2 separate regions of the Homo sapiens genome follow, and region 1 is linked to region 2. The links come from fine-mapping of genetic effects on gene expression. A gene starts in region 2. The other region holds a variant in brackets. All regions are shown on one strand. Distances are from middle to middle.

Region 1 (4,392 bases), 87 kb after region 2:
AGGTCTTTCCACCATATCCTGACCTTGGAAACCCAGGACAGGCAGGGAGAGGCTAGAGTCTTGTGTGCTTTCCTTCAGGATACTTCAAAAATAGCTTTAGCTAGAAACAGTTGGGTGGCAACTAAGAGGGTGTGTAAATTCAGTCCTCAGGGAACCAAAGGCCGAGTCTCTGCCCCATGTGTCAGAGCCGGCTCCAGTGTCTGTGTGTGATGGGGAGTTCCCAGCTTGCATTACCCAGTACTCCTGGTCGGCCATTTATTAACACAGAGGACCAGCACTGTGCTAGAAATTCCTTGTTACATCTGTTTGTCTTGGGTAGGCAGCAGCAGGGCCTGGGAGCTGCGCTCCTGGCTGGAAACAGTTGCACTTGGATATCACTTCTCAGGGTGGGATTAAACACAGACAAAAGCTGAGGATTTATGCTGCAGCACAGGGCTCGGCAGCCACAGAGGCCACTCTGTGAGCGTCAAGAGGGCCAGGAGCAGGAGAGTCTGGCCTGGAGACAGGGCCGCTCCACTACCACCCAGTGGCTCCCACCCTCCTGGACTCCAGCCAGGAGTGCACAATCCTCGTCTTAAATAGGATTGAGCAAAGGATGGGACAACCGGCGTCTGTTGTATAAGCCTAGGGGACTGGGGACTGGGGGCCTCGACTGTCATGGCCACTGCACTAATTTGTGGAGTTAACTAACATTATGTATTCTAACTCTGGGAGGAAAGGACATTTCAGCCACCGGGCTCCCATGTGTTCCAGGAGGCTGCTGAATGATGTTTCTCTAGCGGCACTGCTTGGTACCACCCCGCCTGGCCCTCCTTCTCGGGGAGCAGCCAGCCTCTTCGTTTGAAGGCATCTGTCCTAGAGGTGCACTGCTTCTCCTTCTGAATGGTGTGATTGGAAGTGATCCCCAAGCACTCTGCCACTCTTCCGCTTATTTTGGCCCAGGCAAATCCAGCCAACATTCGAGCTGTGGGTCCCGTCAGAAAGAGGCTGGCTCACTGGCCAGCCTGCTCAGGGTCTGCCGTGTGCTTCCCACCGCAGCAGCTACCACAGGCGCTGAGAAATCGCTCCCTGGTCTGTGTCTGCAGACGCAGACCCAGGAGGGGCCCCGCCTACTTCCAGGCACAGGCTGCTCGTCCGCCTGGTTTTCCTGGAGGGAACTGCTGCGTAGATTTTTCACGAGCAAGTCCTTACAGGTGGTTTCTGTTTTGAGCCAGGTTTTCAGCTAGGAGCTTTTTTGGGAGTCTGTGCAGATGAACAAAATCAACACTGGTCAAAGTCTAGATATCTACGAGGAGGGGATAAATTATGATAAATACATCTGATGGATACTAGCTAGATCTTTTTATTAAGAAAGTACTTCTGTGCTAAATGAAAGAAAGCAGGACACAAACTGAATATACGTTATGATCCCAAGTATGTTACAAAACAGAAAGAAAAAGATGGGAAGAAAAAACACCAAAATATTAACATTGGTTTTCTTGAGAAAATGGGAATTCCGGTGATCTCTTTTGATCTCTCCTGTATTTCCTTATATTTTCTGCAGTGAATGTGTATTAACTTTTATTATTAGAAAATGATTTTTAAAATTTAAGTCCTAGTTCAAAAAATAAACGTGTCAGAGAAAGGGGGCAGATGGACTCCTCCGACTTACAGGGCAGCTCCATGGAACGCCATCCAGGTCCCCAGTGCTTCTGCTGGCAGCACTCCACTGATAAGCATGTTGAGAGTGAGGAAGTTTCTTCCCGCTTCTGTGCCCCCTTTCTCCCAATGGTTTCCTCATTGTCAGGCCACGTACATA[T/C]CTGCTGAATTGAGTTGGAGGCACGTGCATTCTGTATTTTTCTAAGAGTAGGGCCAGGCTTTTCCTGAGCAGTCGGGCAGCGGCAGAGGGGTGCCCTGTAGGGAGCTTACCCAGGACCTGCCAAGCACACCTCCTTGGCCACAGTCACAGCGCACGTTCTGAGGCACCAGGCTGAAGGCGCAGTGCCTGTCCCAGCAGTGATAAGTATTTGTGGTTTGTTTTTGAATCAGACTGGGGAAGACTTTGAGCCCTGCTGAGACTCAGAGCATCTCCCTTTTATTTGCTTTGCTGTTCGTGCTAATTATGGAAGAGCTCTGTTTTTCCAGGAGGAATGGCTCCTGGTTGGCCCGTTCTCGGCCACCAAGGTAACAGGGAAAGTTGGGTGTTCAGTCATGACTGTGGACTGGACGGAGGTGGCACCGGTGGGAGACCAACAGAGGAAGCCCTCCTCCCGGCTCCCAATTCTGGCTTTCGCTAGAAGACAAGAGAAATGAGGAAAACAGCTACCCTAGGAAATAGCCTTCCTTGAAAATGGTTTCCTTTTTCTCAGGTTTGATGAATTTGGGGATTTGTTGTTGTCATTTTTTAAGTAAAAAAAAAATGCCCCAAACATTAGCGTTCATTATCCTAGTCTGATTTGGGTCCGGCTCTACCTGTAGGAGATGAATGTGGTAGGCCAGGGGGCCCCTGTGGATTCTAATTTATGTTTTCAGTTGTTTGCCATTTTGTATCTTCATTACGGGGCTACTTTCCTGCCTCCCTAAAGTCATCTTTCCCAGCATGCTGTTTCTGGACTTTATTTAGTACCGTGGTTACCTCCTGCAGGCTGTGTGGCCCCATCCTTCACCAAAATGTCACCTCAATTAATTCGGCGGCCATGAGACAGATCCATCAGTGGCCCGCCGACTCCCGTCAGCAGGCGCCCATGAGTGATGGGCACCTCCACGCCTCCCGCGGCCCCCCCCCGCCATGTGGAGTCAGCCGGGCAGGACTCACCATCCCTCTGGGCACGAGGGCATCTGGCTGGCCCGAGTCCTCTCACACCTTATGCTGAGGGAGACTTCAGCCTCAGGAGGAGACCCCAGGTGCATTCACTCCACCTAGCTGGCCTTGTTCCCCAGCCCTGCACTCAGGGATGCCTCAGGAGAGCCAACGCTCTGGCAGGGCAGCCAGGTGCCCTTTCCCTTTGGGCCAGGCCCAGGCAGTGGGGACTTAATTGAATCTGCTCATTCCCACCCCAGCTCCACACAGCACAGCACTGCAAATGGAGCTGGCAGAAGAGCTGACTTCTCATTTCTCTTTCCTCTCCCTTCTCTGGTCCATAGGTGTTTGAGGAACTGTGGAAGAGGGAAGGCAAGACTCCAGGGCAGATTGTTTCAGAAAAGCAGCTTGAACTGATGCAGGACCAGGGGGCACTGGAGCAGCTCTGCCACTCTGTGATGGAGGCCCATCCTCAAGTGGTGACTATCTCGGGCAGGGGAGAGGGCCAGAGCCAGCCCCAGGACATGCCCAAGAGCCTCGCCATCGCTCCCTGTGGCAGCCCAGAGGCTCTTCCTAAGAATGGCTGACCCAGTTTCATCAATAATTCCCTCACTGTCATCTTTTTAGTTAAGGTCAGAAGAGATGAAATAGGTGGATATTGGAAAAACACAACTTCTTTTCCTATAAGAAGGATGCCACCCCTGGAGTTTACTCTCCATGGAGGTGTAGTTTAAAAGGGTGTCAGCAAGCTCACGAAATCCAAGCTGTGACCTCCCAGGTGTGTCGCCCTCTCCCAGGGTTGGCATTTCGAATCTGTTGTGGTTAGCGCTACTTCCTAAGGACCTCCCAGTAAAGAACCAGCAGGTGTGCCGGCAGAGCAGGGAGAGTACAGGAACTTCAGCTTCATGCTTCTAAGAGGTGGGAAGAAAGGCAGAAGGGAAAAGTATTCATAAATTGTGGAGAAAATCCCTGACAGGAGCATGACTGAAAACCAGGTCATTTTGTGTTCTTAGCACAGCACAAGACATAAAAGCTAAAACGAGTGGCATCCCTCCCTCCCCAAGTCTAATCATATTGTCTAGAGATATTTTTTCAGTGGGGAAAAAAATTGTCGGCATCTTTTTCAGAATAATACCCACCCACCCATCAGCTTGCCGGGGACACTCACAGCTCTGTAAAGAGCTCTCGATAAGGAAAATGAGCCTGCACTGGGCCTCCACAGCCTCGTCTTCCTGCCTCATCTGTGGTGACTGATAAAGACGTGCCAGTAGTTTCAGGCTTGTTCTGTGGCACTTGAGTGCAGATCCTCATGTCATTGCCCTTGGAGACGCTGCAGAGCAGGAGGTCACGTGGTGGCCCTAAGAGTCAGTGGCTATCTGATAGGAATTCAGCACCTCCTGGCTTCCTCACTCCCCCTGCCCACACAGCACACTCCCCCCGACCCAGCGCTCTGGAAGACTCGGCCAGTGTGTAGATCTGCTTTCTGATAAAGGAATCTTCTTGGTGGGGAGCAGGGGGAGAAGGAAAGCCACACATTTCAGCTGAACATCACTGAGAATCAGAGAGGTGTCCTCACTGATTAGACGCAGTGATTCATCATCTCAGAGAGATTA
Region 2 (4,392 bases):
TGCTCCTGTTTTCACAAGGAAAACTACAGGCATTTCGGGAAATGACAAATAGTCTTGAGGGAGAGGACAGCCAAAGAGATGGTTATTGACAAGTCTCTATTTCCACGATTAGTTCTATAGGATTTTTGAAAGGGCAATGATTAGATAGAGACAAGATGCAGGAAACTGGCCGGTTTCCGTTCGTGAAAGGAAGCAAATACACTTACATGCGTAGGATTTTTATCTCCTCTAGTGGTGGGGTGGGGCCTTTGAGGCGATAGCCTATTACTGAATAATACCGCTTCAGAAACAAAGATGAGCTTCCCTTATAGCGCGTTTTACCCGTAAGATTAGGATTTTCATTAAATGTGTTGCTCTCCCTTACAGTGGTTTTCAAAACATTCCCAATCTTCCATTTGATGGAGTGAATCGCCTTTTAAGGATGCTGATTACCAGCGATGAGGTAACAAGTGTCCCCCTCTCTTTTTAGCTAGAGATACAAGATTCCATTCTCCTCTGTTGTCCTAACAAAAGTGAAGCCATTTTGTGCTCAGAGGCAACTCTCCTGACCCCTAGTCTGGGCCAGAAAAACCTGAGGAGCTAAATAAGTAAAAGAAAGCTAGCTTACCTAGAGTAAAGGTGGAAAACATGGAAACTCAGAGGGAAGACTCTAGTAAAGGATCTAGAGAATCATCTGAACCTTAAATAAAGGGCAATAATTAGAGAGAAATTTTGGAACAAGTCTCCACCACTCCCTTCCAGTCCCTGTCATTTTTGTCATTTTCATCCTTGGTCAAATGACTGATACTTCTGGTGTGGCAATTTAGAACAGTGATAGTGGATGAAAAAGTAGAAAAGATGGAAAAAATAAATGATGACAATTTTAAGGACAGTAACTAAAGTTTCTTTCTTCCATATGGATATGCAATTGAAGTGTATTAAAGGAAAAGATCAAAGGTTACAGCCAACTAATCAATGGATTATTGATCAATAACTGAAAATCTATCAATGTGAAGTATACAAAATATGCAGCTTTTCCCCTTGCCCTGCTCTATACTCAGAATTAGGCATCACTGATGTCTACTTGATTTCTCCTCTTGAATGTCTCCAAGGCAACCAAACTCATATGTTTTCTTTGCAAACCTGTTCCTTTTCTGGTTTCCTTATCTCGGTGGATAACTTCATCAGCCAGTTGTGCAAACCAGAAATCCAGGAGTTATTTGTTTCTCCTAGCCTTCCACCATCATATCCAATCCATCAGAGTCCTTCAATTTTACTTCCTATATCTATCTCAAACAGATCCATTTCTCTTTGGCTCTGCCACCACCCTAACTCATCATCTCTCCCCTAAACAATTACTGCTCCAAAGGGCATCCACTCCATCCTTTGTCAAATGCATTCTCCACACTGCACTACTTTATTCAACAAATATTTTTAAGGAACCTACTTTGTACTGTAGTGAATAAGACAGACGAGGAATTTGTGGAAATAGAAGATAAACATCAGGCAGTCAAAAGCACTACGAGGACAATCAAAGTCGGGTGATGAAATAGAGAGTGGCTAAATGACTATTCTAGACTGTGTTCAAACACAAGAAATCGGTGGCAGTTTTAACAAGGGGTATTAGTTTTGACACAGGAAAATGAAGGAAGTCCGCTGGGACGATGGTATCTGCTCCTAGCATATAAGGAGTGTGTTTCTGATACTGGCCAATAATAAAAAGGAGGTTAAAATGTACATGAACATTCAATCTAGGGCTGTTTGTCTCCAATTACCTCTGCTTAAACATAGCACTTACTACCTATATGGAAGTATCTTATTTTTGTTAACTTCTGTATGTCTCCCTTCTTTAGAATGTAAGCTCCATGAACATGCGGGCCATAACTGTCTTGATCTCTGCAGTAACTACAGTGCCTAAGAGAACTGAGCCTGGCATTACGGTAGGCATGCAAATAAGTATTTGTTGCATTAACGCACAAATTGCTGAGTGAAGCAGGAGAGTAGACAGAGAATATAACGGATTGGGTTTGGGGGCTGAGGAAGTCTCTGCTGAGCTGTCAAGGTCATTTACTTCCCCTTGCAAGGTTAACTGGGTTATAAAATCCCGGCCACGCTTTAGCACCAAGCATCAAGCGCTCACACTCTAACTTATACACACGCTCACAGCCACAAACCTCTCCAACTCCCCGCTAGGAGGAGTCACACCTCCCCACCCAGAAACCCTCCCACCCTCTCCTCTATTTCTCCTTCCCTCCCCTCTCCGCGGGGTTCCGGCAGGCTTCGAATCACAATGCTCGCCGGGAATAGTAGTCTTCCGGTCCGAGCCTATGGCGTTTTTAATGCATTTCCAGAACTACGCTTCCCAGGGAGCCTCGCGGCATAGTGAGGCTGAGTCACCTGACCAAGACCCTGGAGTTACAATGGCGGCGCCCATGCTGCGCTGGGGCTGCCGTGGAAGACGTTGGGCTTTCGCCCGGGTTGACGGTGGTTCTTGCCACCGAAGAGGGGCTCCGACTGGGTCCACATCCAACCAGATTAGGGGAGAGAGCTCAGTGGCTCAGCAGCCCCTCCACACGGCCCAGAAGACGAGGAAAGGGTATTCTGTTTCATACATTTCTGCCCACCTAACTGTGAGGTGGAACTGCAGGACTGGGGAAATAATGGCAATTACGGCCCAGCTTCTAGACGTTTTGGCTGACGGGAGGGCGTTGAGTTATAACCTGGAGCCCCGAAACCTAAATAAAAGCACAAACAGACTTTCTATCAACTCCGCCCCCATATATAAACCACTGTTTTCAAATAGATGTAGTTGGGGAATTCGCGAGTGTAAAATAGCAAATATTTTCTTGAAGGGTGCACAGACAGAAGAGTGGATTCGGTCATCTTACTAATAGCACTAGCAGTGGGGACGGTGACACGAGAAGCGGGATCATATTTAGCTGATTTTATTTAGCGCTAGTATGGGCTGGCAGCGTTCTAAAGGTAGAAAGGGAGCCTTTACCTACAAGCTCTTGGTAGTGGTGGGTTATTGTCATTAGTCAGAAAACACTAGCTATCTGTGCAGGCGTTTTATGTTGGAATATGTGTGACTAGACCTAGGAGGACGCAGCCAAAAGAAGAGATACTCCCCCTGGTTATATGGAGAGTTTTGCTTATTTGGCCAGATATCCCCTGAACAGCTGTTTATGCTTCATTATGTAAGAATTAAATAGTTTCTCTTTAAATACAGAAACATATGGCAAGTTTCTAATATTTTGTTTATTCTTTGAGACTAGTTGGCATTATTTTTACTTTCAGTTGGAGGAACAGAGGGAAATTGTCCAGAAAGAAGTATTCAGTTTTGTATTCTTTTCGTGAATTAGATTGTTTCCTTGTGAATGGAAAGTACATTTTTTCTCTCATGTAATGGAAATGCAAAAATACTTTGAATGGTGCTTTACTGCATGCAGAATTTCTAATGAGTTCCTACTTTAATTCCCCTCCCTTATGGGCTGTGTTTCCAAACTTTAAAAAGAAGGACTTATTCTTGCAGTACTTCAGATATAGAACTTTATATGTTGAAATGATTGAAACAAAACAAAACGATGTAAAATATGTATATATATATATATGTATATACACAAAATTACTTGGGAGAAGAGCAGGATAGGAACATACATGGATTTCATAGGGAATAAGCACATTTATAAGGACCTGGAGAGGCCTATGTACAGACCCAACAGAGTAGGACTGACCAGATAAGAGAGATTATTATAGCATTTAACAGCTTCTTAGATTTGATAGCAAATAAGCATTAAAAAAGTAACCTGAAATTAGGTCTCAGGAATTGAAAGTGATTTGGGGGACCAAAAATATGCCGCATCAGATGGTTTAGTGTGGTGGAGTTTTGCAAAATTTTTTTAAGAGTATCATTTAGTGGTGATTTATTGTATCTGTGTCTCTCTGGTTATTATACATGCAAACCAAAACATGGTTGAGAATTTCCTTTTTAAATAAGAGACGTGGAACTATTTATCATTATTTCTCTAGTAGTAGAATGTTGCCATTTATGTTAATTCTAGATAATGTGGGAAAGATCAGCTTTCATCATTTACTGAGTGATTACTTGATAAGTTACAGTTAATTTGTTAAATGCCGCTTTTCACTGAAGTCAGCCAAGCAGTTGTCACCTGATACCCATTTCTAAATTGTTTTAAGACGCCAAATTGTTCCTTTCTCTATAGCCTTCATGTTTATATCATCAGCCTCCTGATGCCATGTTGTAAATGAATTTTAGTTTGCCAATCTCAGTGTAGGCGCTTATTCTAAATTGTTTTTTATTTAGTCACTGATAAAATATGACACATTTTTAATGTGAGGATATAACATTGTATTAAGTTTAAAACACATATAGGAAATTAACATTTGTGGTTT

Which allele goes with the higher level. Alleles are on the strand shown, and positions count from the first base shown. SD is a standard deviation of normalised expression in the study named.
For the expression in lymphoblastoid cells of the gene that starts at base 2,375 in region 2, C is the high allele of the variant in region 1 and T is the other (moderate effect, 0.47 SD a copy in GEUVADIS).

The links. PIP is the estimated chance that this variant, and not a neighbour inherited with it, causes the effect.
Region 1: its variant is the best candidate, but not a certain one, in a credible set for the expression of GATB in lymphoblastoid cells (GEUVADIS, PIP 0.64).

What each region holds. Positions count from the first base shown.
Region 1 is chr4:151,671,628-151,676,019 of GRCh38, reverse strand. GATB (glutamyl-tRNA amidotransferase subunit B) reads left to right here. Exons shown (of 13, transcript NM_004564.3): 12 at 3,124-3,258. It overlaps LOC107986197 (a long non-coding RNA gene), which reads right to left. Exons shown (of 2, transcript XR_001741447.3): 1 at 1-4,392. Among named protein-coding and RNA genes, the nearest start is that of GATB, 87 kb to the left of the region's middle. RefSeq lists an enhancer at 2,674-3,473. The variant T/C (reference allele first, on the strand shown) is at 1,799.
Region 2 is chr4:151,758,990-151,763,381 of GRCh38, reverse strand. It overlaps GATB (glutamyl-tRNA amidotransferase subunit B), which reads left to right and starts at 2,375. Exons shown (of 13, transcript NM_004564.3): 1 at 2,375-2,575. The coding sequence starts at 2,400. RefSeq lists an enhancer at 2,380-2,659.